Homo sapiens: one gene and its partner. The protein of the gene in region 2 purifies or fractionates together with the protein of the main gene of each other region. This does not show direct contact. Each region holds a gene or a part of one and is shown on either strand. Other genes may lie near its edges. The genes, in order: DDX19B and LGALS7B.

The links.
Region 1: the proteins of LGALS7B (region 2) and DDX19B purify together in Homo sapiens (affinity purification with mass spectrometry; 2 studies listed by BioGRID). This does not show direct contact.

The regions. Positions count from the first base shown.
Region 1 is NC_000016.10:70,303,509-70,319,435, reverse strand, and holds part of DDX19B (ATP-dependent RNA helicase DDX19B), read right to left. Parts: intron 6,828-15,927; coding exon 6,779-6,827; intron 4,535-6,778; coding exon 4,481-4,534; intron 3,797-4,480; exon of another isoform or gene 3,468-3,796; coding exon 3,332-3,467; exon of another isoform or gene 3,294-3,331; intron 2,181-3,293; exon of another isoform or gene 2,063-2,180; intron 1,941-2,062; coding exon 1,848-1,940; intron 1-1,847. UniProt on the Homo sapiens protein: ATP-dependent RNA helicase involved in mRNA export from the nucleus.
Region 2 is NC_000019.10:38,779,455-38,795,452, reverse strand, and holds LGALS7B (galectin-7), read right to left. Parts: upstream 6,254-15,998; 5' UTR 6,227-6,253; coding exon 6,221-6,226; intron 5,838-6,220; coding exon 5,749-5,837; intron 4,765-5,748; coding exon 4,563-4,764; intron 3,874-4,562; coding exon 3,760-3,873; 3' UTR 3,699-3,759; downstream 1-3,698. UniProt on the Homo sapiens protein: Could be involved in cell-cell and/or cell-matrix interactions necessary for normal growth control. Pro-apoptotic protein that functions intracellularly upstream of JNK activation and cytochrome c release.

The DNA of each region.
Region 1 (15,927 bases), on a different chromosome or scaffold from region 2:
AGCTTATTAGAAATGTTGACACTCAGTCCCCACTTAGACCTACTAAATTCAGACCCTGCATTTTAATAAATGTCTATGAGATTTGTATGCCTATGAAAGTGGGAGATGCCCTGCACCAGGAAACCACCTTAGTAACTGTATTATTCAGGTCTCCTAGAGCTGTTTGGCTTCTATTATATTTGACACAATAGCTTTTATATATCAATACAATGAAATCATGGTGCATATACGATATAAACTTATATTTACCAACATAGGAAGATGATCATATAATTAAAAAACACAGCATGTAAAACATTATTTATATGTCACCTTTTTTTGTTTGTTTGTTTGAGATGGAGTCTCGCTCTGTTGCCCAGGCTGGAGTGCAGTGGCGTGATCTCGGCTCACTGCAAGCTCCGCCTCCCAGGTTCATGCCATTCTCCTGCCTCAGCCTCCCATGTAGCTGGGACCACAGGCGCCCACCACCACGCCCAGCTAATTTTTTGTATTTTTAGTAGAGATGGGGTTTCACCGTGTTAGCCAGGATGGTCTCGATCTCCGGAGCTTGTGATCCACCTGGCTAGGCCTCCCAAAGTGCTGGGATTACAGGCATGAGCCACTGCTCCCGGCCATATGTCAACTTTTTTTTTTTTTTTTGAGATGGAGTTTTGCTTTTGTTGCCCAGGCTGGAGTGCAATGGCATGATCTCAGCTCACTGTAACCCCTGCCTCCCAGGTTCAACCGATTCTCCTGCCTCAGCCTCCCAAGTAGCTGGGTTTACAGGCGCCTGCCACCACACCAGCTAATTTTTTTTTTGTATTTTTAGTAGAGACAGGGTTTAGCCATGTTGGTCAGCCTGGTCTCAAACTCCTGACGTCAGGTGATCCACCTGCCTCGGCCTCCCAAAGTGCTGGGATTATAGGCATGAGCCACCACCCCGGTCATATATGTCAACTTTTTTAAAAGTTATATGTTTACATAGAGAAAAGTCTAGAAGTCTCCACTCCAAAATGTTAATAATGTGGGGAGAGGGAGATTACAGATGATTTTTTTTCTTTTCTTTTTTTTTTTTGCATTTTTGAGATGGAGTCTCACTCTGTTGCCCAGGCTGGAGTGCACTGGTGTGATCTCAGCTCCCTGTAGCCTCCACCTCCGGGGTTCAAGCGATTCTCGTGCCTCAGCTTCCCGAGTAGCTGGGACTACAGGAGCACACCATGACACCTGGCTAACTTTTGTATTTTTTTAGTAGAGTCGGGTTTCATCATGTTGGCCAGGCTGGTCTCGAACACTTGACCTCAAGAGATCCTCCTGCCTTGGCCTCCCAAAGTGTTGGGATTACAGGCATGAGCCACTGCACCTGGCCCCCTTGACTTTTTTTTTTTTTTTTTTGAGACAAAGTCTCGCTCTGTCACCCAGGCTGGAGTGCAGTGACATGATCTCGGCTCACTGCAACCTCTGCCTCCCGGGTTCAAGCAAATCTTGTGCCTCAGCCTCCTCTTTTTCTCTTTCGAGACAGGGTCTTTCTTTGTTGCCCAGAATGGAGTACAATGGTATGATCATGGTTCACTGCAACCTCAAACTCCTGGGCTCAAGTGATCCTCCTGCCTCAGCCTCCTGAGTAGCTGGGACTACAGCTGCATGCCACCATGCCTGGCCAAGTTTATAACGTTTTTTTTTTTGTTGAGACAGGGTCTTGCTACATCGCCCAGGCTGGTCTTGAACTCCTGGCCTGAAACGATCCTCCTGCCTTGCCTCTCAGGTTGCTGGGATTATAGGCATAAGCCACCTTGCTGGCCTGTGAAAATAATAATAGTTTTCAAAAATAGAAAATCTAAAATGAAATGGAGTTGTAATAGGACACATACGGCTCAGCAAGCATCAGTGGCAATGCGTTCTCTTGTATCTTGGATGGACGATTGAAACCCATGGCATAGACTCCTTGGAGAAGCTGTGGTTTCCTAGAAAAACAGTTAAAGATGAAAGTCACAGTCTCTTTGGTTGAGGAAAGCAGCAAAATATCTGGAGGATTTTTCTCTTTTACTGTTTACACATAGTTTTTTGTTTGTTTGTTTTTGAGCAGAGTCTCGATCTATTGCCCAGGCTGCAGTGCAAAGGTGCAGTCTCGGCTCACTGCAACATCCACCTTCCGGGTTCAAGCAATTCTCGTGCCTCAGCCTCGCGAATAGCTGGGATTACAGGTACATGGCACCATGCCCCGCTAATTTTTTTTTTTTTTTTTTTTTTTTGAGACAGAGTCTCGCTCTGTCACCCAGGCTGGAGTGCAGTGGCGCGATCTCGGCTCACTGCAACCTCCGTCTCCCAGGTTCACGCCATTCTCCTACCTCAACCTCCTGAGTACCTGGTACTACAGGCACCCGCCAACATGCCCTGCTAATTTTTTTTGTATTTTTAGTAGAGATGGGGTTTCACCATGTTAGCCAGGATGATCTCAATCTCTGGACCTCGTGATCTACCTGCCTCAGCCTCCCAAAGTCCTGGGATTACAGGCGTGAGCCACCGTGCCTGGACTAATTTTTGTATTTTCAGTAGAGACAGGGTTTCACCATGTTGGCCACGCTGGTCTTGAACTCCTGACCTCAAGTGGTCTGCCGGCCTTAGCCTCTCAAAGTGCTGGGATTACAGGCATGAGCCACTATGCCTGGCCTACACATAGTTTGTAATCAACAATAATTGAGCTGTGGTGAACTGAATACATGTTAGTACAGCTAAAGCTTTTATCCATCATCTGGAAATTTTACTAAATATCCCAAAGCATCTACAGTATTTATGTATATTTTTTAGATGGAGTCTGGTCTCGCTATGTTGCCCAGGCTGGTCTGCAACTCCTGGCCTCAAGTGATCCTCTCACCTTGGCCTCCAAAAGTGCTGGGATTACAGGTGTGCACTACGGCACCCAGCTAAATTCTTTTATAAAACTTGGTTAGCAGCTGGGTGCGGTGGCTCATGCCTGTAATCTCAGCGCTTTGGGAGGCCGAGGCAAGTGGATCATGAGTTCAGGAGATCAAGATCAGCCTGGCCAACATAGTGAAACCCCATCTCTACTACAAATACAAAAAGTAGCCAGGCGTGGTGGTGTGCACCTGTAATCTCAGCTACTTGGGAGGCTGAGGCAGGAGAATCACTCGAACCCAGGAGGCGGAGGTTGCAGTGAGCCGAGATCGCGCTACTGCACTCCAGCCTGGGCAACAGAGTGAGACTCTGTCTCGAAAAAAAAAAAAAAACTTGGTTAGCTAAAACTGCTCTGTTGTGGTCAAAAGATATCTATAACAGACCTAGGATCTCTATTTCAGTGCAAAGGGGAAGAGTCAGAAGGTGAATAAATACTCACAGCCGAAGCTCTTCAAAAGACTTCACCGAGTACAGAGGGGAGTTTGGATCCCGCTGCAGGACTTCCACTTGGTTTGTGTTATCAACAAGGTTGCTTCTGATCAGCTTGTTGAGTAAGGACTGGGCAGCTCTGTCCTCTGTCAGGAAAAAGAAAGCAAAGAATTTTAAAAAGTCCTTGAAACCTACCAGGCGTTTACTCTAATTCAACTGCCATTTGTATTTTAAATAATAATGTACTGAACATTCAAATTCAAGGTACGTCATAGTTTTGACTTATAAATTAAAATAGTTTTATTAAAGAAAAAAGTTATGATACATCACCCATTTAGGCCTCATATTCTTTTCCAGACTCTATTCTAACAGCCCTCTTTTCCTGCAGTTATCTATTCCTCCTATCCAGACCCACATATTTACTCCCCAATTTGTACTATATATAAACCTAAAGTAATTAATGTAGCAATCACAACAATAAAAAAAAAAACAGGAATTAACAAAGTCTGTACCTTAATATTGGACAAGTTGGTCTCGTCATCCATGTCAAATGTGTCAAAATAACATTAAGCTTAATTTTACTGGACAATAGAGATGCAACTGAAAATTTTTTATAATGCCCTATTCAACTGTTCAGTTGTTAAATGTAAAATTTCTCTAAACGTAAACCATTAGAACTCCTTCACCTACTGACTATTTATATTGAACTTTTTTTTTTTTTTTTTTTTGAGACAGAGTCTCGCTCTTTCGCCCAGGCTAGAGTGCAGTGGCTCGATCTCGGCTCATGGCAAGCTCTGCTTCCCGGGTTCATGCCATTCTTCTGCCTCAGCATCCCAAGTAGCTGGGACTACAGGCGTCTGCCACCATGCCCGGCTAATTTTTTTTTTTTTTTTTGTATTTTTAGTGGAGACGGGTTTTCACCGTGTTAGCCAGGATGGTCTCGATCTCCTGACCTCGTGATCTGCCCACCTCGGCCTCCCAAAGTGCTGGGATTACAGGTGTAAGCCACCGTGCCCGGCCCCTATATTGAACCTTTATGCTAGCACTGTATCGCCTATTAAAGTCAAGCCAAACTGGGTATAAAAATGAAGCCTCATAACAATCCACTTTCTTAGAATGTAGAAGCTTGTTATTATATAAAGCTCCACGGCTGTGTTACCTTTCTCTTCTTCATCTGTCTTCTCTGCATTGGCATTGGTCTTGACAACAGCACCTTTATAGACACAAAGTGGCCATCATTCAAAATCGCATCCCATACCCAACAGTTGAGACAATTCAAATTCTATGACACTAGAAGTTTTTGTAAAGGCCTGGGGAGCAAAAAATAAATGAGGAAACCGAGCCGCTGATAAAAACATTTTATTGTCCCTAAATAAACAAAGGTGTAAAACACTGTTGCTCACATATATATATATATAGATAGATATTTATTTTATTATTTATTTATTTTTGAGATGGAGTCTCGCTCTGTCGCCCAGGCTGGAGTGCAGTGGTGCGATCTCAACTCACTACAAGCTCTGCCTCCCAGGTTCACGCCATTCTCTTGCCTCAGCCTCCCGAGTAGCTGGGATTACAGGCACCCGCCACCACGCCCAGCTAATTTTTTTTGTATTTTTAGTAGAGACAGGGTTTCACCATGTTAGCCAGGCTGGTCTTGATCTCTTGACCTCGTGATCCGCCTGCCTTGGCCTCCCAAAGTGCTGGGATTACAGGCGTGAGCTACCGCGCCCGGCCTCTGTTGCTCATATTCTTTCCTATTCTAGGTCTCCTCTCCGTACCTCAAAACCTGTTATTTCCCTCATTGAATCAATACTTCTTAAATATTATAGAAAGATTAGAGCAATTAGTGATCAGAAACCACCTTGATGCTCAACAGAGGAATATCTATGCAAATCGTATTTTATCAATAGGTGAACACAATAATGCCATTAAAATTCATGTATATAACAAATGAGCAGTAAGACCAACAAAAAAAATTCATGCATATAAATTTTTTTTTTCTTTTTTTGAGATGCAGTCTCACTCTTACCCAGCCTGGAGTGCAGTGGTGCGATCTCAGCTCACTGCAACCTCTGCCTCCCAGGTTCAAGAGATTCCACTGTTTCAGTATCCTGAGTAGCTGGGATTACAGGGGTGCACCACCACACCTGGCAAATGTTTGTATTTTTAGTAGAGATGGGGTTTCACCATGTTAGTCAGGCTGGTTTCAAACTCCTGACCTCAGGTTATCCGCCAGCCTTGGCTTCCCAAAGTGCTGGGATTACAGGTGTGAGCCACCACACCCGGCCTATAAATTGATTAATATAAATTTATAGTCGAATGATACTGTGGTTATATAAAATCATACAAAAAAGATTTAAGTGAATTTTGAGAAAGGCAAATGTTACATTTCCTTCCTGTAATATTAAGTACATCAACAATAATTTAATGGAAATCTTAACTTTGGATAAATATGATTTCAGAATAATTAGGATAGGTAAACTGTCAGATTGCTCATACTTTGTCTATCTCATCCCAAATTGAGAACATTAAGAAAAAAATTAGTCTTTGTCAATGTAGTCCGATGGTTAGTAATTAGTCCCACTTAAGTAGCCTCATTCTTTGTTCCCCCCACACCCTTGCTATCAGTGTGCAATCCTCATTCTTGTATTAAAAACACTTTGAAACCAGGTGTAATATCTCACTCCTGTAATCCCAGCACTTTGGGAGGCTGAGGCGGGAGGACTGCTTGAGCCTAGGAGTTAGAAACCAACCTGGGCAACACAGGGAGTCCTCATCTCTATAAAAAAACAAAAATACCTGGGCACAGTGGCTCACACCTATAATCCCAGCACTTTGGGAGGCCAAGGCCGGTGGATCATGAGGTCAGGAGATTGAGACCATCCTGGCTAACACAGTGAAACCCCATCTCTACTAAAAATACAAAACATTAGCCAGGCGTGGTGGCAGGTGCCTGTAGTCCCAGCTACCCGGGAGGCTGAGGCAGGAGAATGGTGTGAAGCCGGGAGGTGGAGCTTACAGTGAGCCGAGATCGAGCCACTGCACTCCAGCCTGGGCAACAGAGCGAGACTCTGTCTCAAAAAAATAAAAAATAAAAAATAAAAATTAGTTGGGCGTAGTGGGTTGTGCCTGTAGTCCCAGCTACTCAGGAGGCTGAGGTGGAGGATCACTTGAGTCTGGGAGGTTGAGGCTCCAGTGAACCATGATTGAACCACTGCACTCCAGCCTGGGCAACAGAGCAAGACCCTGTCTCTTAAAAAGTAAACAGAAACAAAAAAATAAATAAAAACACTTTGGTCATACAATCCAGTTTGTTGATTTACAAATCAAATGGTACCAGTATCTGCCAATGCCCTGCCTGGTACAAATACAAATTTTTTTCCAGACAGTTGTTATGCCAAAACAAAAATACTGAAGGAAATCACATTTGTTTTCAAACTAGCTATTAGTTACTTACCATTGGTATCTGGTTTGATTTTCTCTTCCTTAAGATGCAAGTTGCTCAACTAAATGGAGAATATGGGGGAGGGGGAAAGTGTCAGGAAAAGCACTTAAAAAGATTTGGAATCAACAGAGCCTCCCTAATGAAGCTGGGGATAAAATAGCCATTCTCAAGGTATATTCATTAGGACCAATTCATTGGGTTGTTCCGTTTACTAAATGTCTGATGAGAATAAACAAAATTTCCCGTAAATACATCGGTGGAAAAAAATGCTCCAAATCTGTACCTTCTACTTAAAATTCTGTGAGAGAATTGTAATTTGTGAGTTTGCTTAATGCCCTGATTATAAACTTTCTCTCTTTGTAGAATATCATTAGAGTTGTCATTCTCTCATATTTCTTTTGTGTGTGGGGGGGAATCGCTGCATTCCAAATCATATTTCAAACAAGAGGAAATTTAAAGAGATTTTGAAAAATGCAGTCATACTTTGGAGAACACTGGGAAGGGAGGACTGTGATGAAAAGCATCTGTAAAGCCAGGTGCGGTGGCTCGCGCCTGTAATCCCAACACTTTGGGAGGCTCAGGCAGGCAGATCACGAGGTCAAGAGATCGAGACCATCCTGGCCAACATGGTGAAACCCCGTCTCTACCAAAAATACAAAAATTAGCTGGGCGTGGCGGTGCATGCCTGTAGTGCCAGCTACTTGGGAGGCTGAGGCAGGAGAATCGCTTGAACCCAGGAGGCGGAGGTTGCAGTGAGCCAAGATCACGCCACTACACCCCAGCCTGGCAACAGAGTGAAACTCCGTCTCACAAAAAAAAAAAGAAAAGAAAAGAAAAGAAAAGCATCTGTGGGTAGGAATCAGTCATACTGCAGGATACGTTAGAGCCGTAAGACCACAGTATGCTGATGTGCAGCCTCACATTCAAGTCACCTTTTGCTGGTGTCTGATACTGTAGTTGGGAACAGCCTGAAGCATTGTGGCACACTGTGTAATTAAAATACCCACTGGGCTGAAGTGGAAATAGAAAGGAAAGAGACATTTCAAAGAATAATTACTAAGACTTTGATCAAATACTGTATATTAGGGATATCCTAGCAGGTCTTATCTCCTCTATTAGAATGCAAATACCTTCCTGACAGGGCCTATTTCGTTTTCTACTGCTCCTTGAGGAGCAGGGCTACCCCACAGGAAATGTGCCCAGAGTAGCATATTTCTATTTTTGGCCTTTGGATGTAGTACAGAGCAAAGTAAGTGCTCTAGTCGTAAATTTTTTGTTTGTTTGTTTTTTGAGACAGAGTCTTGCTCTGTCACCTGGACTGGAGTGTAGGGGCGCGATCTCAGCTCACTGCAAGCTCTGCCTTCCGGGTTCACGCCATTCTACTGCCTCAGCCTCCCGAGCAGCTGAGACTACAGGCGCCCGCCACCACGCCCGGCTAATTTTTTGTATTTTCTTTTTTTTTAAGAGATGGGGTTTCACGGTGTTAGCCAGGATGGTCTTGATCTCCTGACCTCGTGATCCGCCTGCCTCAGCCTCCCAAAGTGCTGGGATTACAGATATGAGCTGCCACGCCCGGCCTTTCTAGTCGTACATTTTTATTAAAAACAAAACAAAACAAAAAAGCCTTTTTTTTTTTTTTGAGACAGAGTCTCGCTCTGTTGCCCAGGCTGGAGTGCAGTGGCCTGATCTCAGCTCACTGTAAGCTCCGCCTCCCGGGTTCATGCCATTCTCCTGCCTCAGCCTCCGGAGTAGCTGGGACTACAGGCGTCCGCTACCACCCCCAGCTAATTTTTTTGTATTTTTAGTAGAGGCAGGGTTTCATCATGTTAGCCAGGATGTTCTCAATCTCCTGACCTCGTGATCTCCCTGCCTCGGCCTCCCAAAGTGCTGGGATTACAGGCATGAGCCACCGCACCTGGCCAAAAAAGACTTTTTTAAAGGTCAGAAAGCATCTGTAAGTCTTGGACCCCAGCACAGGGATTAGATAGATGGAAAGTCTGGCGTGAGTAAGTAACCTTTCAAGCTAAAGCCAACCCTAATCATAAAATATCAAGCAGGGCCTAAGACATCATCTAGTAAAAAGAAAATGAAAATCACAACCTAATGGTTCTTTCTTTTTTTTCTGCAGACGAGGTCTCACTCTGTTGGCCAGGCTGGAGTGGTGCAGTGGCATGATCATGGCTCATTGAAGCCTCAACCTCCTAAGGCTCAGGCAATCCTCCTGCCTTAGCCTCCCAAGTAGCTGAGACTACAGGCACTCACCACCATGTCCAGCTAATTTTTTTTTTTTGAGGCGGAGTCTTGCTCTGTTGCCAGGATGGAGTGCAGTGGTGTTATCTCAGATCACTGCAACCTCCGCCTCCTGGGTTCAAACGATTCTCCTGCTTCAGCCTCCCAAGTAGCTGAGACTACAGGCATGCACCACCATGCCCAGCTAATTTTTGTATTTTTAATAGAGACAGGGTTTCACCACATTGGCCAGGATGGTCTCAATCTCTTGACCTCATGATCCGCCCACCTTGGCCTCCTAAAGTGCTGGGATTACAGGCATGAGCCACTGCGCCCAGCCTGCCCAGCTAATCTTTTATTGTAGAGTTGGGATCTTACTGTGTTGCTCAGGCTGGTCTTGAGCTCCTGGGCTCAAGCGATCCTCCTGCCTCAGCCTCCCAAAGTGCTAGAATTATAAGTGTGAACTACGCATTAGGCCGCATTTCTGTTGTCCCTCTAAGTCCAAGAACAGGCGAAAGGGGAAGGAGGGTAGAGAGGAGAGAACAAAAAAATGTTTTAATTGGTGGTTTGTTGAGAATGGAGGAGCCCCATTTCTATTTCTCTTTTTTTTTTTTTTTTTTTTTGAGACGGAGTCTTGCCCTGTCGCCCAGGCTAGAATGCAGTGGTACGATCTTGGCTCACTGCAACCTCCGCCTCCTGGGTTCAAGCAATTCTCCTACCCCAGCCTCCCAAGTAGCTGGGATTACAGGCGTGTGCAACTACGCACAGCTAATTTTTGAATTTTTAGTAGAGACGGGGTTTCACTATGTTGGTCAGGCTGGTCTCGAACTCTCGACCTCGTGATCCACCCGCCTCGGCCTCCCAAAGTGCTGGGATTACAGGCGTAAGCCACTGCACCCAGCCAGGAGCCCCATTTCTTTTTGTTTGTTTGTTTGTTTTGTTTTTTGAGATGGAGTCTCGCTCTGTCGCCCAGGCTGAAGTGCAGTGGCGTGATCTTGGCTCACTGCAAGCTCTGCCTCCCAGGTTCACGCCATTCTCCTGCCTCAGCCTCCGGAGTAGCTGGGACTACAGGCGCCTGCCACCATGCCCGACTAACTTTTTATATTTTTAGTAGAGACGGGGTTTCACCGTGTTAGCCAGGATGGTCTCGATCTCCTGACCTCGTGATCTGCCCGCCTCGGCCTCCCGAAGTGCTGGGATTACAGGCATAAGCCACCGCGCCCAGCCTCCCATTTCTATTCATGGAAATGGACAAGAAGTTTCTGGTCCCTTTCTGCTTTGGTGTTGGGAAAGAGGAAAAAGAAAGGGAACACATTAAAGAGATTAGAAAAAAGCAACTTAACAAAAAGGAAACCATTCAACTGGAGAAAGCCGACTGAAAAACAAACAAAAAAAAAAAGAAATCATTATAAAGCAGTAAAAATCCTTCACTAATTCTGAAGGATAAAGAATACACTAATGGGGGAGGGCAGTGGGGGACAGCATTAGGAAAAAGAGCTAATACATGTGGGGCTTAATACTTAGGTGATGGGTTGATAGGTGCAGCAAACCACCATGGTACATGTTTACCTATGTAACAAACATGCACATCCTGCACATGCACCCTAGAACTTTAAAAAAAAAAAAACAGCTGGGCACAGTGGCTCACACCTGTAATCCCAGCACTTTGGGAGGCTGAAATGGGAGGCTCCCTTGAGGCCAGGAGTTTGAGACAAGCCTGGGCAACATAGTGAGACTCCACCTCTATAAAGATTAAAAATAAAAATATTGACAGGGCATGGTGGCTTGTGACTTGAATCCCAGCACTTTTGGAGGCCGAGGAGGGAGGATCCTTGGAACTCATGGAGTTCGAGACAAGCCTGGGTAACATAGTGAGACCCCATCTCCTAAAAAATAAATAAATAGGCTGGGCATGGTGGCTCATTCCTGTAATCCCAGAGCTTTGGGAGGCTGAGGCAGGCTGATCACCTGAGGTCAGGAGTTCGAGACCAGCCTGACCAACATGGTAAAACCCTGTCTCTACTAAAAAAATATAAAAAAAATTAGCCAGGTGTGGTGGCGCAGGAGGCTGAGGCAGGAGAATCACTTGAACCTGGGAGTTGGAGGTTGCAGTGAGCCAAGATCACACCATTGCACTCCAGCTTGGGCAACAGAGTGAGACTCTGTCTTAAAAATAAATAAATAAATAGACCGGGTGTGGTGGCTCACGCCTGTAATCCCAGCACTTTGGGAGGCCGAGGCAGGTGGATCACCTGAGGTCAGGAGTTCGAGACCAGACTGGCCAACATGGTGAAAACCTGTCTCTACTAAAAATATAAAAACTAGCTGGGCATGGTGGTGGGTGCCTGTAATCCCAGCTACTCAGGAGGCTGAGGCAGGAGAATTACTTGAACCCAGGAGACAGAGGTTGCAGTGAGCCGACATGGTGCCACTGCACTCCAGCCTTGGCAGCAGAGTGAGACTCCGTCTCAAAATAAATAAATAAATAAAAATAAATACATAAATAAATAATAAATTTAAATAAATTTTAAAATAAAATAAATAAATATATTAGCTGGGCATGGTGGTATGTGCCCATAGTCCCAGCTACCAGGGAGGCTGAGGTGGGAGGATTGCTTGAGCCCAGGAGTTCCAGGTTACAGTGTGCTATGATCTTGCCACTGCATTCCAGCCTGGGTGACAGAATGAGACCCCATCTCTATTAAAAAAAATACACACATATATACACACACACACATATATACATACACACACACACACACACATATATATACATATGGCCAGATGTGATGGCTCACGCCTGTAATCCTAGTACTTTGGGAGGCCGAGATGGATGGATTGCCTGAGCTCAGGAGTTCGAGAGCACTGTGGGCAACATGATGAAACCCCATCTCTACTGAAATATGAAAAATTGGCTGGGCATGGTGGCACGTGCTTGTAATCCCACCTACTTAGGAAGCTGAGGCATGAGAATCGCTTAAACCCGGGAGGCAGAGGTTGCAGTGAGCCGAGATGGTGCCACTGCACTCCAGCCTGGGAGACAGTGCGAGACTCTTGTCTCCAAAAAATAAAAAATAAAAAAAGACATATTATTTCATAGACAATATTAATCTTAAAGATTAATGATGCAGCTGCTTTGGAAAACATCCTGGCACTTTCTCAAAAGTTAAATACAGAATTACTATATAATCCAGCAGTCCCACTTCTAGATATATACCCGAGTATTGAAACTATATGTCCACACAAAAACTTGTACATTAATCAAAAGCAGTATTATTCATAGTAGCTAAAAAGTAGAAATAATCCAAATGTCCAGAAATTGATAAGTGGATAAATAAAATGTGGTATATCCACACAATGGAATATTATTTGGCAACAATAAGGAATAAAGTACTGATACATGCTACAACTAATGAACCTTAGTTCATTATACTAAATAAAAGGAGCCAGTCACAAAGGATCACATACCGTATGTTCCCATTTATATGAAATGTTTAAAAGAGGCAAATCTAAAGAGACAGAAAGTAGATTAGTGATTGCCTAGAGCTGGGGAGTTTGTAGGGAAACAGGGAGTAACTGCTAATGTGTACAGAGTTTCCTTTTGGGGTGATGAAAATGTTCTAAAATTGACTGTGATATAAGCTACACACTTCTGAATACACCAACCATCAGTGAACTGTACACTTTAATCTCACCATAATGTCATAATAATAGGGTCTCAAGATTCTGTTTCATAAAATGCAGGAATTTGTTGTTGTAAGGTTAATAAAATGGCTAGTTTGGGCCTGCTAAAAACAGCAAGAGTTAATCATTTCATACCTGAGTTTTTATTATCACTGGATTCATTATTATGAGTTTCTGTTCTATCCAAAAGATAACTCTATGATGCAAACTCAAGCCAAAAAGAAAATGTCAAAGCTACCTACTCCTAACAAACCCTCTTAGGCACATTAATAGGTTAAAACAATGACAATTTAACCTGACCTGAATGGCCGGGTGCAGTGGCTCATGCCTATAATCCCAGCACTTTGGAAGGCCAAGGCAGGTGATAGCTTGAGCTCAGGAACTTGAGACTGCCCTGAGCAACATGGTGAAACCCTATGTCTACAAAACATACAAAAATTTGCCAGGTGTGGTGGTGCACACCTGTAGTCCCAGCTACTTGCAAGGCTGAGGTGGGAGGACTGCATGAGCCTGGGAGGTCAAGGGTGCAGTGAGCCATGTACACACCACTGCATTCCAGCCTGGGTGACAAAGTAAGACTCTATTTCAAAAACAACAACAACAACAAACAACAACAACAACAACAACAAAACTGACCTAACAAGAAGTTAGTTAAAATAGTCAAAACTCTCAGAACTAAAAAATAAAAAAAACAGGCCGGGTGCTGTGGGTCATGCCTGTAATCCCAGCACTTTGGGAGGCCGAGGCGGGCGGATCACGAGGTCAGAAGATCGAGACCATCCTGGCTAACACGGTGAAACCTCATCTCTACCAAAAAAATACAAAAAAATTAGCTGGGCATGGTGGTGGGCGCCTGTAGTCCCAGCTACTCGGGAAGCTGAGGCAGGAGAATGGCGTGAACCCAGGAGGTGGAGCTTGCAGTGAGCCGAGATTGCGCCACTGCACTCCAGCCTGGGCGACAGAGTGAGACTCTGTCTCAAAAAATAAATACATAAAAATTTAAAAAATAATAATTAAAAAAACAAAAAACCTCTCAGAACTACTTGAAACACATATTTATCTCTACGTTGACTAATGATGTGTTTTTTTTCTAAGTGTATATTGTGCCTTGAGATATTGGCTAATAAAAATATGAAGCCAGCACACACAAGCACAGGAAAGCATTATTTCATTTTTATCTCAGCCTTTATTACTTTTTTATTTGCTTTACAATGTACATAATATATTTAATAAAACAGTAAAGTATGCAATTTCTAAATAGATATTTACATATTGAGAGTGAATGATCAAAAGTTTCTTTGCAACAAATAACAAACTACACAGTTCATTTACTCAGTTAACAATGCCTGCCAGGTTAGGCATGAGAAATGCTCAAATGGATAAGGACCACAGTTAAGGGAGGGGATGCCATAATGAAAACAGAAGCATTAAGTGGAAGCAGGTATTCTGGGTCCTGAGACCTCCCTCACCCTTTCCTCCACCTAGATTCCAGAACACTGAGTCAGACCTCCACCATCTAGGCAGGAGTTTAGAGGATCCCTCTCTGCAAAATCTGGCCAGACCGGGAGGAAAGTTCTCAGGATGCTGACATAGACCACTAAAGATATATAGTTAAGGTCAGAATAGACAAGCCCCACTCATGTGTTTACAGCTTCCACTCAACTTTTTAGTCACTCACTCTTAAATATGAGTGGCCAAGCAAGGATTACAGACATCTGAGAAACAGTCATCACAAAAAAGTAGACACTGAAATATATGGATAAAACACGCCTCACATGAAACAGAGACTGAGCAGAGAGAAGAAGAAAAATATCCTCCAAATGATGAGGATATTATGACCATGAAAGCCGTACAGGGTATTGTCTGTAAAAAAGGAACAGTAAAGGAAGAAGAAAAAAGTTCCTGAAATTAAAAATAAGAAAGTAGAAGTGAAAATGAAATATACCAGACAGTACTTGAGAAAATCTCCCAGGAAATATAGAAAGAAAGAAAGAAAAAAAAAAGAGACAAAGATGAAAAACAGAAGAAAAAAGAAAACCAAAGGACTTTTAAACGAATGGTGCTGGAACAATTAAGACAGCTCTGGCCAGGAGTGGTGGTTCACGCCTGTAATCCCAGCACTTTGGGAGGCCAAGGCGGATGGATCACCTGAGGTCAGGGGTTTGAGACCAGCCTGGCCAACATGGTGAAACCCTGTCTCTACTAAAAATACCAAAAGTAGCCAGGCTTGGTGGCAGGCGCCTGTAATCCCAGCTACTCGGGGGACTAAGGCAGGAGAATCGCTTGAACCTGGGAGGTGGAGGTTGCAGTGAGCTGAGATCACGCCACTGCACTCCAACCTGGGGGACAAGAGCAAGACTTTGTCTCAAAAAAAAAAAAAAAAAGACATCTCTGTGAAAAAGATGAACAGATGAACCTCGGCCAGGCACGGTGGCTCACGCCTGTAATCAAGCACTTTGGGAGGCCGAGGCGGGCAGATCATGAGGTCAGCAGTTTGAGACCAGCCTGGCCAATATGGTGAAACCCTGTCTCTACTAAAAATACAAAAATTAGCTGGGCATAGTGGTGGGTGCCTGTAATCCCAGCTACTAGGGAAGCTGAGGCAGGAGAATTGCTTGAACCCCGGAGGCGAGGGGTTGCAGTGAGCTGAGATTGCGCCACTGCACTCCAGCCTGGGAGACAGAGCCAGACTCCGCCTCAAAAAAAAAAAGATGAACCTCAATGCATACCCCTTATTAGAAAAAATTTAACTCAAAATGGAAAATGGATTACAGACATAAATGTAAAATTTAAAACTATAAGACTTCTAGAGAACACAGGAGAAAATCTTTGTGGCCTTGGATAAGGTGTATATCTTGGAACACAAAAAGAACTAATCATCTAAAAATTGATAAATTAGGCCGGGCGCGGTGGCTCACGCCTGTAATCCCAGCACTTTGGGAGGCCGAGGTGGGCGGATCCCAAGATCGGGAGGTCGAGACCATCCTGGCTAACATGGTGAAACCCCATCTCTACTAAAAATACAAAAAAAAATTAGCCTGGCGTGGTGGTGGGCGCCTGTAGTCCCAGCTACTCGGGAGGCTGAGGCAGGAGAATGGCGTGAGCCTGAGAGGTGGAGCTTGCAGTGAGCCGAGATGGCACCACTGCACTCCAGCCCAGGCGACAGAGCAAGCCTCCGTCTCAAAAACAAACAAACAAACAAAAATTGATAAATTAGGTTAATCAAAGTTGAAAATGTCTATTATTTG
Region 2 (15,998 bases):
ACCACCACGCCCGGTTAATTTTGTATTTTTAGTAGAGATGGGGCTTTTCCATGTTGATCAGGCTGGTCTCGAACTCCTGACCTCAGGTGATCCATCTGCCTTGGCCTCCCAAAGTGGTGGAATTACAGGCATGAGCCACAGCACCTGGCCTGACCCAGAAATTCTCCTAGGTACTTACCCAAGAGACATGAAAACATGTTCACACAATAGGTTCATAGCAGCATTATTCATAATAGCCAAGATGTAGGAACAACCCAGATATCCATTATTCACCATGATGAATGGGTAAACGCGTATATTCGATCCACACATTGGAACAGCATTCAGCCATGAAAAGGAATGAAGTGCTGATGCATGCTATGACATGGACAAACCCTGAAAACATGATGCTCCGTGGAAGAAGCCAGATATACAGGGCCACATATTGTATGATTCCACGTGTGGAAAACAAGCAGATTCATAAATCCATACAGCTGGAAAGTAGGTTAGTGATTGCCAGGTGCTGGGGGAGGGGCAAGTTGGGGAGTGACTGCTTATGGGTATGGGGTTTCTTTTAGTTGTTCTTTTTTGTTTTGTTTTGTTTCTGAAACAGGGTTTCACTCTGTTGCTCAAGCTGGAGTGCAGTGGAGCGATCACGGCTCTCTGCAGCCTCGACCTCTCCAGCTCAAGCCATCCTCCTAGCTCAGCCTCCCGAGTAACTGGGACCACAGGTGTGTACCACCATGCCCAGCTAAAATTATTTTTTGTAGAGATGAGGTCTCCCTATATTTCCCAGGTTGTTTTTTTTTTTTTTTTTTTTTTTTTTTGACACAGAGCTTTGCTCTGTCACCCAGGCTGGAGTGCAATGGTGCTATCTGCTCACTGCAGCCTCCGCCTACCGGGTTCAAGCAATTCTCCTGCCTCAGCCTCCCACGTAGCTGGGATTACAGGTGCGTGCCACCACGCCTGGCTAATTTTTTGTATTTTGAGTAGAGATGTGGTTTTGCCATGTTGGCCAGGCTAGTCTCGAGCTCCTGAGCTCAAGTGATCCGCCCATCTCAGCCTCCCAAAGTGCTGAGATTACAAGTGTGAGCCACAGCGCCCGGCCTCAGGCTGGTCTTGAACTCCTGGGCTCAATCAATCCTTCCGCTTCAGGCTCCCAAAGTGCTGGGATTACATCTGTGAGCCAAGGTCTTTTGAGATGATAAAAATGTTCTAAAATTAGATTGTGTTGATGGATGCACAACCTTGTGAATATACTGAAAAACATTGACTTGTATACTTTGAATGGGTGACTTGTATAGCATATGAGTTATATGTCAATAGAGCTGTTACAGAAAGATCCAGGAGGATGGGGAGGAGAGAAGGGAAGCTGAATCATAAATTCTAAATTTCTTTGAAGACAAACTTAATAAAGAAGGATTTAGGTTGGGCACCATGGCTCACACCTGTAATCCCAGCACTCTGGGAAGCCTCGGTGGGAGGATCGCTTGAGCTCAGGAGTTTGAGTCCAGGAGTTCAAGACCAGCCTGGGCAACATAGCAAGACCCTGGCTCTACAAACACCCGCCCCCCCCAAAAAAATTAGCCTGGCACCATGGCACGTGCCTGTAGTCTCAGCTACTTGGGGGGCTGAGGTGGGAGGATGGCTTCAGCCTGGGAGGTTGAGGCTGCAGTAAGCCCTTATCCACAACTCCACTCAGCCTGGGCAACAGAGCAAGACCCTGCCTCAACAAAAAAAATTTTTTATTTAAAAATTTTTGATGAACTGTTACCGATGGAGGGTGTCCAGGTGCTTGGTCTCTTGAATGAAGAATTGGGCAAAACGCACAAAGCAAGGAAATAATGAAGCAACAAAGGCAGAGATTTATTGAAAATAAAAATACACCCCACAGTGTGGGTGCGGCGGAGCATAGGGGCTCAAGGGCTGGGTTACATAATTTTTTGGCATTTAAATACCTTCTAGAGGTTTCCATTGGTTACTTGCTGTACGCCCTATGTAAATGGAGAGGATGTTTCCTGTCATAGCTGAAGTGTGAATCAGCCTTATGTTCCCTGCCTCCAGACCCTATTTTCCTGCCTCAGAACCATTTGAGAATAAGTCGCAAACATGCTGCACCACCAAATACCTAACTCTATTTTCCACAAACAGGGACAAGTTCCCACATGTACACTGTCAGTCAACGGTGAAATTCAGGACATTAACACGGCTGGATCGCTACTGTCTAATCCGAAGACCCAACCACATTCACCACTTGTGCCAATAATGTGTGTTCATTTCACTGTATGTTTTGAAATGTATACCAGATGCATATATTATCTTTATGAAAAAACTGATATTTTAAAAACACTCGACACAGCCAAATGAAATAAGAGCGAACTCATTCAAGCAGGAGCCCCGGAGGACTGGGAGAAACCGGCCTCTCACAGGCCTCCTCACCAGAGCTGGGCTCGCTCCTGGCCACCGCCCACCCACTCCAGGGCCGGACACGGGAAGGGACCGCCCAGACCGAAGGTCGCAGGGGCCTAAAACCCCGGGTCCTGAATGCGCCTGGGACCTGCAGCGAACCTGGCGTCCCCACCTGACTCCAGAATCAGATTCAGGCCAGGCCAGGAACCACCCCAGCTTCCTGCATCCGCCTTGGTCCAGGCAGCAATGCGGAAGGCGGACGCCAGGGGGTCGGAGGCTCAAGGGCGGGGATCGAGACCCAAGGCCTGGCGCGCCCACCAAGATGTGGCTCTGCACTAAGGTTCCGGAACAGCCGGCCCTGAACACCCACGTGCAGCTTCCGATCGCAGCCCTGGCCTGGCTCCTCGGTCCCCGGTTGAGAGACCCGCGACCGCTGCAGGGTGCCTCGCCGAGGGTGGGGGCTCGAGGCGCACAGTGCTCCCAGCCTCTCCCACCCCAACCCCGCCATTAAGGGAAGCCCCAGCGACGCCCTGAACCCTGAAAGTCACACTGGGGCCGGGGCTGCACTTGGCGTCCGCTTCCCCTCCCGTCACAGTGACCAGGGCTAGGACCGGGGTCCGGGCCGTCGGGGAGAGCGGAGGGCGCGTGGGAATGGGGCTCGCTGCGCCAGGGAAAACCCACGCCGTCCTTCGAGTCCTCCCAGCTGTTCCGCAGAGCCGGGGCCGCTGCCATCGCGTCTGCCCCGAGGGTGCGCAGGCGGGTACCTGTCCCGACTCGGGGAACAGCGGGAGCCCGGAGACGCCCGTCGGGCTTCCCAGCCCCACCTGGGACGTCTCTAGGGGCGGGAGGCCAGGAGAGAAGAGGGTGGGAGAGATGAGCTGCAGGGGGATACGGGACCCAGGGACCCGGGATCTTATAACACGCTTTCCACCCGTAGGATTGGGGCCCACAAATGACCAGAAAGGTGGGACTCATTCGCCCCCTTTGCAGATGGACCCATGTTGGCGCCCCTTAGATCTGCAGTGGGGGCACCAGGACCTGCGGTGAGCGCCTCTGCGCCCCAAACGCCAGCAGGTCCGCCCGACCGCATTCCCAGCTGGCTTGCTTTGCACAAATGCTGCGTCAGGGCACGCCCCACACCCACTCCTTCCCAGATCGCGACCCTCACGCCTTCGCAGACAGAAAGTGTCCTAAGCACAGGCAGGCTCAGAGCCCGCCTCCGCCTCGGATTCGCTGTGTGGCCCGGAGCCAGTATCTTGGCCTCTCTGGGTCTCAGTTTGCTCATCTCAGTGAATGGGACACAGACACAGTCGCGCTGCGGGCTAACGCTTTATTTGCCAGCCAAGGCCCCGGGCCCGCCTGGGCTTCTGCTCAGAAGATCCTCACGGAGTCCAGCTGCACGTCCCCGCCCACCTCCACCAGGCGCACGCGCGCCAGCGGCAGGCGGTGGCGGAAGTGGTGGTACTGGGCGTCCCCAACCACGGCCTGCAGGGGAGGGTCGGTGGTGAGGATTCCGGAGGCCCGTGCTGGGTGGCCCTGGGGAAATCACTCATCCCCTCTGGGCCTCAGTTTCCTCACTGGGAAAATGGGGCTATTGTTCATTCTAACTCTTGCGTGAGGATCAAACGAGTTGACTGTGTGGCACAGTAAAAAGCGGCTTTTTTAGTGCTGGTAATGGATATTCTCATTTCAGCGACCATTACCCGCTATTAAAGCGCAGAGGAGGGAGGTGAATTCGCGTAAGCTGTGGGTGGTGGAGGATCTGCCGCCACTCCCACCCGCCAATCCTTGCTAGGACGAGTTCCTGGGCGCTGTTTCCAACCCATCCCTCCCCATGCCTCAAACCCCGGACCTCAGGAAGGAATGAACTGGGAGTAGGGTCTGGGATGGCGAGTCTGGGCCACGCCTTCCCGCTAGGACGCCCACCCCTTGGACACTTGGCTGGTGCTCGCCTCGTCCTGACCCTGCTGTCTCTCTGTCCCTCGGACCCAAGTGGGAGTTGTTTAGGCGAGAGAGAGGGTCGAAGGACACCCTTCTCCGCCTTGGCCACGACTTCCCTACCCCCCTCACCCCGCCCCGAACCTCCCTGCCTTCCACCAATAGCCTGGCTTTGCCCAACCCTCTGCTCCAGGGACCTAAGTCTTGGCGTCCACGCCCCTGTCGCAGAGACGCACCTTGAAGCCGTCGTCTGACGCGATGATGAGCACCTCGAAGGGCTGCCCGCGCTGGAAAGGAACGCCCGGCCCGCGCTCCTCGCGGCCCCAGGAGCCTTGCTCCTTGCTGTTGAAGACCACCTCCGACGTGTCCAGCCGGGGGTTGAAATGCAGGGCGGCATCGGAGCCCTGCTCCTCCCCGCACAGCAGGTTTACATGGAACCTGGAAGAGGGGGATGGTGGCCGTCAGGGCTCAGAAACCACCCAGACCAAGAAATGTTGAGGGTGAGGAATACCGATGTCTACAATTTACTTTGAATGAATAAGTAAATGAAATGTTGGCTGGGTGCAGTGGCTCACCCTGTAATCCCAGCACTCTGGGAGGTGGAGAAGGGAGGATCGCTTGGGCCCGGAAGTTAAAGACCAGCCTGGGCAACATAGCGAGACCCCACCTTACAAAAAAACGAAAGAACAAACAAAACATAAACCGCCCAGACCAAAGTGAAGGTCTTATGGGCTGGCACTCCCCATTCCCAGAGTACCCCCAAATTAACAGGGACCTGAAGACAGGCACACACCGCAGAAGGAGAGGTGGGCGACTAATGACCAGGGAGCTTAGATTCCCAAGGCAGCCAAAATATCATGAGGCCCTTGGCAGAAACCTACCCAGACCAAACTCACTACGCTTAGGGCAGGGTGCCCTCATTTCCAAAGAGCCTGGGAGCTGCCCAGGAGGTCTGGGTGATAGCCAGGGTGCTCCTGATGCTCAGGGAACCCTCAGCTTCTACAGGACAAAGAATAATACCAGGAACCCCAGTATTTCCAGGGTACCTCAGAATCCAGAAGGCCCGAAGTTCCTTAGCCAGGAAGTCAAAGGATGGCTTGGCAAGGACTCCCAGGGTCCAGGGTGTCTCCAGGACTTGGAGTATTTCCAGAGTTCCCTGGGACTCAGACATGGAAGTCATAGGACTATATCTAGGAACCCTGAGATTACCCAGGGACCTCAAATGCTTAGGGAAACTTAGGGACCCCAGCCACAAAGGCACGGGGGCAAATACGAATACATCAGATTTGAGGTCAGAAATGGCCTCGGACTCCTAGCCTGGTGGATACAGGTGGCCTCGGGCCCCTACTTCTGGACTGCAAAAATTGGGAGTCAGCTGATCCTGAGACCTGTACCCTTTACCCCTAGGGCCTGGGGCCTCACCTGCTGGCATTGGGAGGAACCAAGCCGCGAATTCTCAGCACCGTGCCAGGGCGGATGCCCTCGGGCAGTGAGGACTTGTGGGGGACGTTCTGCAAGAGTGGGGTGCAGGGGCCACTGTGAGCCGGTGAGACCGAAGGAGGGAGGCAGAAGGTGGGTCACCCCTCAGAGGAGCCGACCAGGGCTGAGACTGGCAGAAATCAGTGGAAGAGGAAAGGGTGGCGGAGAGGCAGGAAAGAGACCAGAAACAGACAGGGAAACAGATGGGGAGAGCAACAAAGACAAACAGAAAGATCCTCAAAGAGGGCCCCAGAGGAAGCCACAAAGAGGTAGAGGGGACAGTCGGGATGGGGGTTACCCGGAGGCCACAGCCCAGGCCAGTCCGTGGCACACTCACTGCCCACTTGCTCCTTTGAAAGAGGAGCCCCCAGCCCCCTCCCTGCTTGGCCCCGCCCCGGGCCCCTGGAGCACTCACGGACATGGCTGGGACCGGGTTGGGCAGCCGTGGTGGTGGGGCCTGCTGGGGACCTTAAATAAAAGCAGGGCGGGGCTGGCCCTGATGACTCACCCCACCCCTTCCCACCCACCACCCACACCTGGCACGGACCCTGGCCCTGGGGCAAGCCTGGCGAAGTGGGAGTGGCGCCTCTTCTTGGGGGCCCTGATCCCCCCATCACCCAGAGCCCGGGTGCACTGCCCCTCTCCTAGGAGCTGATAATAAGAGCCACCGCCCCTCCACCCCTGTCTTCCCACTGCCTGGCACACAGGAGAGTCTCTCATGCTCATTTTATCCACAGACATGTTGGGTCCTGAGAAGCCAAGCCCAGCGGGAACTCTAGACCCTTCTCTCCAGCTGAGAACCTCCTGCCTAGACTGGAAATGTCTGCGCTGAAATCCCTGCTTCTAAGTCTCCAGTGGAACAGCAGCCACAACAACGACGATAGTGCCAGACAGGGGGACTTCACAGGGTCGGAGGGCGGCCTGGTTGGCTCAGTGCTGCACCCCTGGGTCCTGGAGTGTGCCGGGTTCATGGGAAGTCCTCAGTCAGGAGGGGTGAAAGGAGGGGATCCACTAGGACTACGCTTGTCATTTCCCAGGCCCTTGGGCTGCCCAGGATATGCAGGAAATCACTGATTGGGACCCCACCATTCCAACAGAGAGAAGCATGGGTCACCCCCATTGTACAGAGAAGGAGGCTGAGGCTGGGATGGGAAGTGATTTTCCACAAGCCGGGCAGGACCCATTGCCCCAACCTCTGCCTTTCCTCACCTCTGGGCGTGCCTCTCCTGTGGGTTCTGTCTCTGGGGCTGGCTGTCTGGCTCTGTTTGTCTCTGTCTATAACTGTCTACCGCGTATTCCTGTCCCACTTCTCTCCTTCAAGTCTCTCTTGTTCCTCCTTCCAGGACTGTTACCATCTTCCCACCAATTTTGCAGGTCAGGATGAGGTGGGTTTTAGGGTGGTGGGTGGCCTAGCATTCCATCACCACCTAGATCAAAAGCAGAGCAAGGTGGGGACCCTCCCGCCAGCCCCAATATAGCCCGCTTGGGCCCAAGACTCTAGAAGAGAATCCAGGGTTGGGGAAGTAGACTGGGGGAGGCGGGGGGGGGGGGGGGGGCGGGCAGGACTGAAATCTGTTTCTGAAAGGCAGGGATGGTGTGGGAGCTGAACAGAAACCACTCCTGGCTGGGCATGGTAGCTCACGCCTGTAATCCCAGCACTTTGGGAGGCCAAGGTAGGTGGATCACTTGAGGTCAGGAGTTCAAGACCAGCCTGGCCAACATGGTGAAACCCCTTCTCTATAGAAAATACAAAAAATTGGCCAGGTGTGGTGGTGGACACCTGTAATCCCAGCTACCTGGGAGGCTGAGGCAGGAGAATTGCTTGAGCTGGGGAGGCGGACGTTGTAGTGAGCCGAGATCACACCACTGCACTGCAGCCTGGGCGACAGAGCTAGACTCTGTCTCAAAAAATAAAAATAAAGCCTGTAATCCCAGCACTTTGGGAGGCCGACGCGGGTGGATCACGAGGTCAGGAGATCGAGACCATACTGGCTAACACGGTGAAACCCCGTCTCTACTAAAAATACAAAACAAAATTAGCCGGGCATGGTGGCGGGCACCTGTAGTCCCAGCTACTCGGGAGGCTGAGGCAGGAGAATGGCATGAACCCGGGAGGCAGAGCTTGCAGTGAGCCGAGATCGCGCCACTGCACTCCAGCCTGGGCAACAGAGCAAGACTCCATCTCAAAAATAAATAAACAAACAAACAAATAAATAAATAAAAATAAACCACTCCTAGCAATGCAGCAGCCCTCCTGGACCTTTTCCACTCCCCACCCAACTCCTGCACTCCTGCCCCACCCAGCAGGCTGCTGAGAGGCCTGGGCAGAGGCAGGCTGGCAGTGGAAAGTTTGGGTGGAGACACCAGACCCAGAACCATCCTCCACCCTCTTTGTCCCAGGCCCCCAGCCTCTTGCCCCCTCCCCACACACTCCAAGGCACCAAGGTGGGGGACCAGTTCCTAGGGACGTGAGCTCAGAGAGGGAGGCTTGCAGCTGCATTTCAGTGGGAGCTGCAAGCACCCCCATTCTGCAGAAGACAAAACTGAGGCCTAGACAGGGACAGCTTCTCAGCCAAGGAAGCGGCCAGGCCCTGGGCTCCACAGGGGTGTCTGTGCCAAGGACATGTCATGGGCACGGACAGAGAGGACAGCAGGGTGTCCGGTGATCACACCACCAGCGCAGCTCAGTTAGTTCCCGAGAATGTTCCCTTGAATGGTGAACTCCATCATTCTAACATTATTGACCATTCTAAAGAACACACTCCTCACATTACTGACGCCTCATGCTGTGTACCGTGTTTCCCAGGAACTCAACTTTTTAGTGATCGCTTCACTGTGGCTGGATGTAACTTCACATGCAGCCAACATGCTGCAAGTCCCAACGTGCCTTTGCTGACTGGCCAAAGCTTTCCATTCACTCTATTATTAGCCTGAAGTCCTGACTCCTTTCTGGTAACAGATCTGCATCCTTGATTGCATCCTTGATGGGTTTTTGTTGTTGTTGTTGTTGTTTGTTTGTTTGTTTTTGAGACAGAGTTTTGCTCTGTCACCCAGGCTGGAGTGCAGTGGCACGATCTCGACTCACTGCAACCTCTGCTTCCCAGGTTCAAGTGATTCTCCTGCCTCAGCCTCCTGAGTAGCTGGGATTACAAGCATGTGCCACCACTCATGGCTAATTTTTGTATTTTTAGTAGAGACAGGGTTTCACCATGTTGGCCAGGCTGGTCTTGAACTCCTGCCCTCAAGTGATCCACCCACCTCAGCCTCCCAAAATGCTGGGATTACAGGCATGAGCCACTGCATCCAGCCCTTGATGAGTTCTTATTCAATTGTGTTATCTTTCTCATTAGTTGTGCAATAATTTTTTTTTTTTTTTTTTTTGAGACAGGGTCTGGCTCTCTCTGTGATCATGGCTTACTGCAGCCTTGGCCTCCTGGGCTTGGGAATCCTCCCGCCTCTGGAGTAGCTTGGACTACAGTTGCACGCCACCATGCCCAGCTTTTTTTTTTTTTTTTTTTTTTTTCCTAGAGAGGAGGTCTCACCATGTTGCCCAGGCTGGTCTCAAACTCCTGGGCTCAAGCGATCCTCCCACCTTGGTCTCCTAAAATGTTGTGATTACAGGCCTGGCCACGGTAATATTTGTGTGTCTTTTTTCGGTTTTAAATAACTAATGTGTTTATTTCCCAATTGTTATTTCATTGAGGTATTTTTCCCATTAAATAAAAGGTTCAGATTTTGTTGTTGTTGTTGTTGTTTTGAGACAGGGTCTTGTTCTGTCGCCCAGGCTGGAGTGCAGTGGTATGATCTCAACTTACTGCAACCTCTGCCTCCCAGATTCAAGTGATCCTCCCACCTCATCCTCCTGAGTGGCTGGGACTACAGGAGTGTGCCACCACACCTGCCTAATTTTTGTATTATTTTGTACTGATGGGGTTTCGCCATGTTGTCCAGGCTGTTCTCAAACTCCTGGACTCAAGTGATCCACCTGCTTTGGCCTCCCAAAGTGCTGGGATTATAGGTGTGAGCCCCTGCTCAGGGTTCAGATTTTAATGGAATAGTTCAATGAGTTTTGACACATATAGTCACCTGTGTAACCACCTCCCCAATCAAGTTTCCTGGTGCCCCTAGAAACAGTCACTGCTCCTTCTGCCACATGAAGCCACTGTCACTCCTGAGCAGTTAGTAGCCACAAAGTTTCCTTTGATCCATTGTGGTGGCATGTGCCTGTAGTCCCAGCTACTCGGGAGGCTAGGGCAGGAGGATCACCTGAGCCCTGGAGGTGGAGGCTACAGTGACCCAAGATCACACCACTGCACTCCAGCCTGGGTAACAAGGCGGGCGGATCACCTGAGGTCAGGAGTTTGAGACCAGCCTGGCCAATGCGACAGCGTGGCGCCTGCCTGTAGTCCCAGCTACTGGGGAGGATGAGGCAAGAGAATCACTTGAACCTGGGAGGCGGAGGCTGCAGTGAGTTAAGATCGCACCTCTGCACTCAAGACTGGGTGACAGAGCGAGACTCGGTCTCAAAAAAGAAAAAAAAGGCCAGGCGCGGTGGCTTACACCTGTAATCCCAGCACTTTGGGAGGCCGAGGCGGGCGGATCACGAGGTCAGGAGATCGAGACCATCCTGGCTAATACGGTGAAACCCCGTCTCTACTAAAAATACAAAAAATTAGCCAGGCGTGGTGGCGGGCACCTGTAGTCCCAGCTACTCAGGAGGCTGAGGCAGGAGAATGGCATGAACCTGGGAGGTGGAGCTTGCAGTGAGCCAAGATCGCGCCACTGCACTCCAGCCTGGGCAACAGAGCAAGACTCCAAGATTCCGTCTCAAAAAAAGAAAAGAAAAGAAAAGAAAAATAAGTTCATTTGCCGTGAAAATGAGAAAGTGGGTTGGGACAGACTGATTTTTCTGATTTTAGGCCTCTTTCAGGATATAACTTAGTTGAAAAGTAACTAATCGCACACTAAGTGTTTGTAGGGATTTAAAACCCCAGGTTCTGTCAGTGCCATTTTGTTAGTGATATTTTGAGTTATTGTTTTTTGTTTTATTTTTGATTTTTTTTTAGTGATTGCTTCACTGTGGCTGGATGTAACTTCACATGTAGCCAACATACTGCAAGTCCCAATGTGCCTTTGCTGATTGGCCAAGGGTTTGCACATTAACTCTGTTATCAGCCCGAAGTCCTGACTCATTTCTGATAACAGATCTACGTCCTTGATGGGTTCTTTTTTTTTTTTCTTTTGAGATGGAGTCTCACTCTGTTGCCCAGGCTGGAGTGCAGTGGCTCAATCTCAGCTCTGCCTCCTGGGTTCAAGCGATTCTCTTGCCTTGGCCTACTTAGTAGCTGGGATTACAAGCATGCACCACCACTCTTGGCTGATTTTTGTATTTTTAGTAGAGATGGGGTTTCACCATGTTGGCCAGGCTGGTCTCGAACTCCTGACCTCAAGTGATCCACCCACCTCAGCTTTCAAAAGTGCTGGGATTACAGATGTGAACTACTGTGCCTAGCCAAGGGTCTGGCTATGTTGCCCAGGCTAGTCTGGAACCTGGGCTTAAGTGATCCTCCAACTTCTGGCCTCCCAAAGTACTGGGATTACAGGTGTGAGCCACCATGCCCTGTGGTTTTGGTTATTTTTTAAACACAGTGAAGATACTTCAGGGACTCCTTTGGTTTTATATATTAACATTCCAGTGATGAAAATGATACAGGTAAAAATCTTTTTAGTGAATTCTAACTGTTCCCACAGTTAAAGACATTTACCCACTATGTAACTAATTATATCTTTCCAAGTAATTTGGTAACCACCACTGAAGATTGGCTTACTCAGCTTCTAACTCACTCCCCAGCGGGCCCACCTTTTTTTTTTTTTTTTTTTTTTTTTTTTTGAGACAGGGCCTTAATCTATTGCCCAGGCAAGATCATCATGCACTGCAGCCTCAACCTCCTGGGCTGAAGCAATCCTCCTGCCTCAGCCGCCAAAGTGGCTGGGACTACAGGCATGTGACACCACCCCCAGTTAATTTTTTTTTTATTTTATTTTAGTAGAGCTGATGCCTCACTATGTGGCCCAGGCTGGTCTCAAACTCTGGAACTCAAGTATCCTCCTGCCTTGGCCTCCCAAAGTGCTGGGATTACAGGCGTGAACCTCCGCACCCAGCCTGGCCTGCTTTCTTGCATTAGGCAGTTAAAAACTACATTTCCCAGAGTTATTTGTAGCTAGATTCACATAGGACTGGGTTTCCCCAAGCTGAGTTTGCACCCCTGGAAAACTCTTTTTTTGAAGACATGCCCTCGTGGCCAGGTACTGTGGCTCACACCTGTAATCCTAGCACTTTGGAGGCTGAGGTGGGCAGTTTGCCTGAGCTCCAGAGTTCAAGACCAGCCTGGGCAACATGGCAAAACCCCGTCTCTACTAAAATACAAAAAATTAGCCTGGCATGGTGGCACGCACCTGTAATCCCAGCTACTGGGTAGGCTGAGGCACAAGAATCACTTGAATCCAGAAGGTGGAGGTTGCAGTGAGCAGAATTTGTGCCACTGCACTCCAGGCTGGGTGACAGAGCAAGACTGTCCAAAAAGAAAGAGAGAGAGAAGGAAGGAAGGAAGGGAGGGAGGGAGGGAGAGAGGGAGGGAAGGAGGGAAGAGAGAGAGAGATGAAAGAAAGAAAGAAAGAAAGAAAAAGAAAGAAAGAAGGAAAGAAAGAAAGAAAGAAAGAAAGAAGAAAGAAAGAAAGAAAGAAAGAAAGAAAGAAAGAAAGAAAGAAAGAAAGAAAGAAAGAAAGAAAGAAAGAGAAAGCCAGCCAGCCAAGAAAGAAGTGGTCTTGCTCTGTGGTTTTGCCCTGTCACCCAGCCTGGAGTGCAGTGGCACCATCATAGCCCACTGCAGCCTAGAACTCCCAGGCTGAAGCAATTTTCCTCAGTCTCTGGAGTAGTAGGTAGGACAACGGTTGTGTGCTACCACACTTGGCTAATTTTTTCTTTTCTTTTCTTTTCTTTTTTTTTTTTTGAGACGGAGTCTCGCTCTGTCGCCCAGGCTGGAGTGCAGTGGCGTGATCTGGGCTCCCTGCAAGCTCTGCCTCCTGGGTTCATGCCATTCTCTTGCCTCAGCCTCCCAACTAGCTGGGACTACAGGCGCCCGCCACAATGCCCGGCTAATTTTTTGTATTTTTTAGTAGAAACGGGGTTTTACCGTATTAGCTAGGATGTTCTCGATCTCCTGACCTCATGATCTGCCCGCCTCGGCCTCCCAAAGTGTTGGGATTACAGGCGTGAACCACCGCGCCTGACTCTTTTCTTTTTTTGAGACAGGATCTCACTCTGTCACCCCAGCTGGAGTGCAGTGGTGTGATCTCGCCTCACTGCAGCTTCAACAGCCCAGGTTCAAGCAATCCTCCTGCCTCAGCTTCCTAAGTAGCTGGGATTACAGGCATGTGCCACTGTGCCCGGCTTTTTTTTTTTTTTTTTTTTTTTTTTAGAGACAGGGTCTCACTGTGTTGCTCAGGCTGGTCTTGAACTCCTGGGCTCAAGCGATCTACCAGCCTCAGTTGCCCAAAGTGCTGGGATTACAGGTGTGAGCCCCCATGCCTGGCCCAAAACTGGCTCATTTTTAAATTTTTTTTTTTGTAGAGACAGGGTCTTCCTCTGCTGCCCAGGCTGGTCTCAAACTCCTGGCCTCAAGGAGTCTTCCCAGTTCAGCTTCCCAAAGTGCTGGGATTACAGGTATCAGCCACTGCACTCCACCACCTGCAAAACTTAGAAGGTGAAAATGAGGTAACACTTACGGGAGGGAGATGAGCCTTCTGGCTAGTTAGGTGATGGAGGTATTTATTTTTATCTAGAACAGCCTAGGAAGCTCTGGCCAGGGAATGCTCTCCGCATCCACCCTCTAGCTTTGCAGCACGGAAGCTTATTCCCTAGTCCTCTGAAAATTCTGTAAGCTATTGCCGGGCATGGTGGCTCATGTCTGTGATCCCAGCACTCTGGGAGGCCAAGGCGGGCGGATCACCTGAGGTTGGGAGTTCGAGACCAGCCTGACCAACATGAAGAAACCCCCTCTCTACTAAAAATACAAAATTATCTGGGTATGATGGCTCATGCCTGTAATCCCAGGTACTCGGGAGGCTGAGGCAGGAAAATTTCTTGAACCCAGGAGGCGGAGGTTGCAGTGAGCCAAGATCGTGCCATTGCACTCCAGCCTGGGTAACAAGAGCGAAACTCCGTCTCAAAAAAAAAAAAAAATTCTGTAAGCTGTCATAGCCGCTAATAATCTCTGTAAACTAGCGGAGGAGGGTTCTGTTGCCAGCAACCAGCAACCCCAACATGACAGTGGGAGAAGTGGCTGATACAGGCAGCAGAACTTAAAATGAGGGCGTGGCTGGAGGAGATAGAGGAGAGGCTGATAGGAAGGACTCCTGTATTGCAGGGTGGAAAGCCAGTGTCTCTTGCTACATGGTAACAAATTATCCACTCACACTGTCACCTGCTGTGCCTGGAAAGGCAGATTGCGGGCTGGCCAAGGCTGCAGCCTCAGAAAAATAGTAAAGATGTTTCAGAATGACAACGTTTTCTTGTTTCTTCCACTTTTGGAGAAGTCCTAAGAAGCAATCAAGAGCCTATGGACAGAAACAGAAGGAATTAATCCATCTGTCTTAAACAGGGGATTTTTTTTTTTAGTCAAGGTCTCTTTCTGACGCCCAGGCTGGTTGGAGCGCAGGATCTCGGCTCACTGCAACCAACCTCTGCCTCCCAGGTTCAAGTGATTCTCCTGCCTCAGTCTCCCGAGGAGCTGGGACTACAGGCGAGCACCACCACGCCTGGCTAATTTTTCTATTTTTAGTAGAGACAGGGTTTTGCCATGTTCTCAAACTTCTGACCTCAGGTGATCCACCCACCTCACCTCCAAAATGCTGGCATTACAGGCATGAGCCACCACGCCTGGTCATGTCCAGCTTTTTATTTCTTCTAGAGATGAGGGTCTTGCTATGTTGCCCAGGCTGGCCTTGAACTCGTGGTCTCAAACGATCCTCTTGCCTCAGCCTCTCACAGTGCTACAGGCGTGAGCCACTGCTCCCTACTAGGGGGTTCTATCTTGCTGCATACTATGAATCTTAATTGAATGAAGGTCCCATGTCTTTTTTTGACACAAGGTCTCGCTCTGTCACCCAGGCTGGATTGCAATGGCGTGATCTTGGCTCACTGCAACCTCCGCCTCCCGGGTTCAAGCGATTCTCCTGCGTTCAAGTGATTCTCCTGCCTCAGCTTCCAGAGTAGCTGAGATTACAGGCGTGCGTCACCACACCCGGCTAATTTTTTGTATTTTTAGTGGAGACAGGGTTTCCCCATGTTGGCCAGGCTGGTCGCAAATGCCTGACCTCAGGTGATCCGCCCACCTCAGCCTCCCAAAGTTCTGGGATTACAGATGTGAGCCACCACACCCGGCCATAGTTGGGAGTTTTGAAGAGTCAATGTCATATAAACCAAAAAGGGTGGATGATTGTTCCAAATTCAAAGAGAATGACAGGACAGCCAGATGAAATTTACCAGCCTTTACTGACTGCTGAATAAGGGAGGAAAGTGTGACATAAGTTACCCTTGGGACCCAGGCATTCTACTCCTAGGGATATGCCCAAGGGGAATAAAAACATGTTCGTGCTAAATATTTAAACAAAATGTTCGTAGAAGCGTTCATTATTCATAACAGCCAAACAGTGGAAACAACTCGAATGTCCTTTGCAGGGGAAAGAAAACTTTACCTCTCCCTCCTACGGTCTTCAGTGGGCTTGGGTATAAAACTACCATAAGAATGCCGGGCGCAGGGCTCACTCCTGTAATCCCAGCATTTTGGGAGGCCAAGGCGGGCGGATCACCTGAGGTCGGGAGTTTGAGACCAACCTGACCAACGTGGAGAAATCTTGTCTCTACTAAAAATACAAAATTAGCCGGGCATGGTGGTGCATGTCTGTAATCCCAGCTACTTGAGAGGCTGAGGCAGGAGAATCCCTTGAACCCAGGAGGCAGAGGTTGTTGCAATGACCCGAGATCACGCCATTGCACTCTGTCTAAAAAACAAACAAACAAAAACAAACAAACAAAAAAAAACTGGTATAAGAAGGCTCACGCCTGTAATCCCAGCATTTCGAGAGGCCGAGGCAGGTGGATCACCTGAGGTCAGGAGTTCAAGACCAGCCTG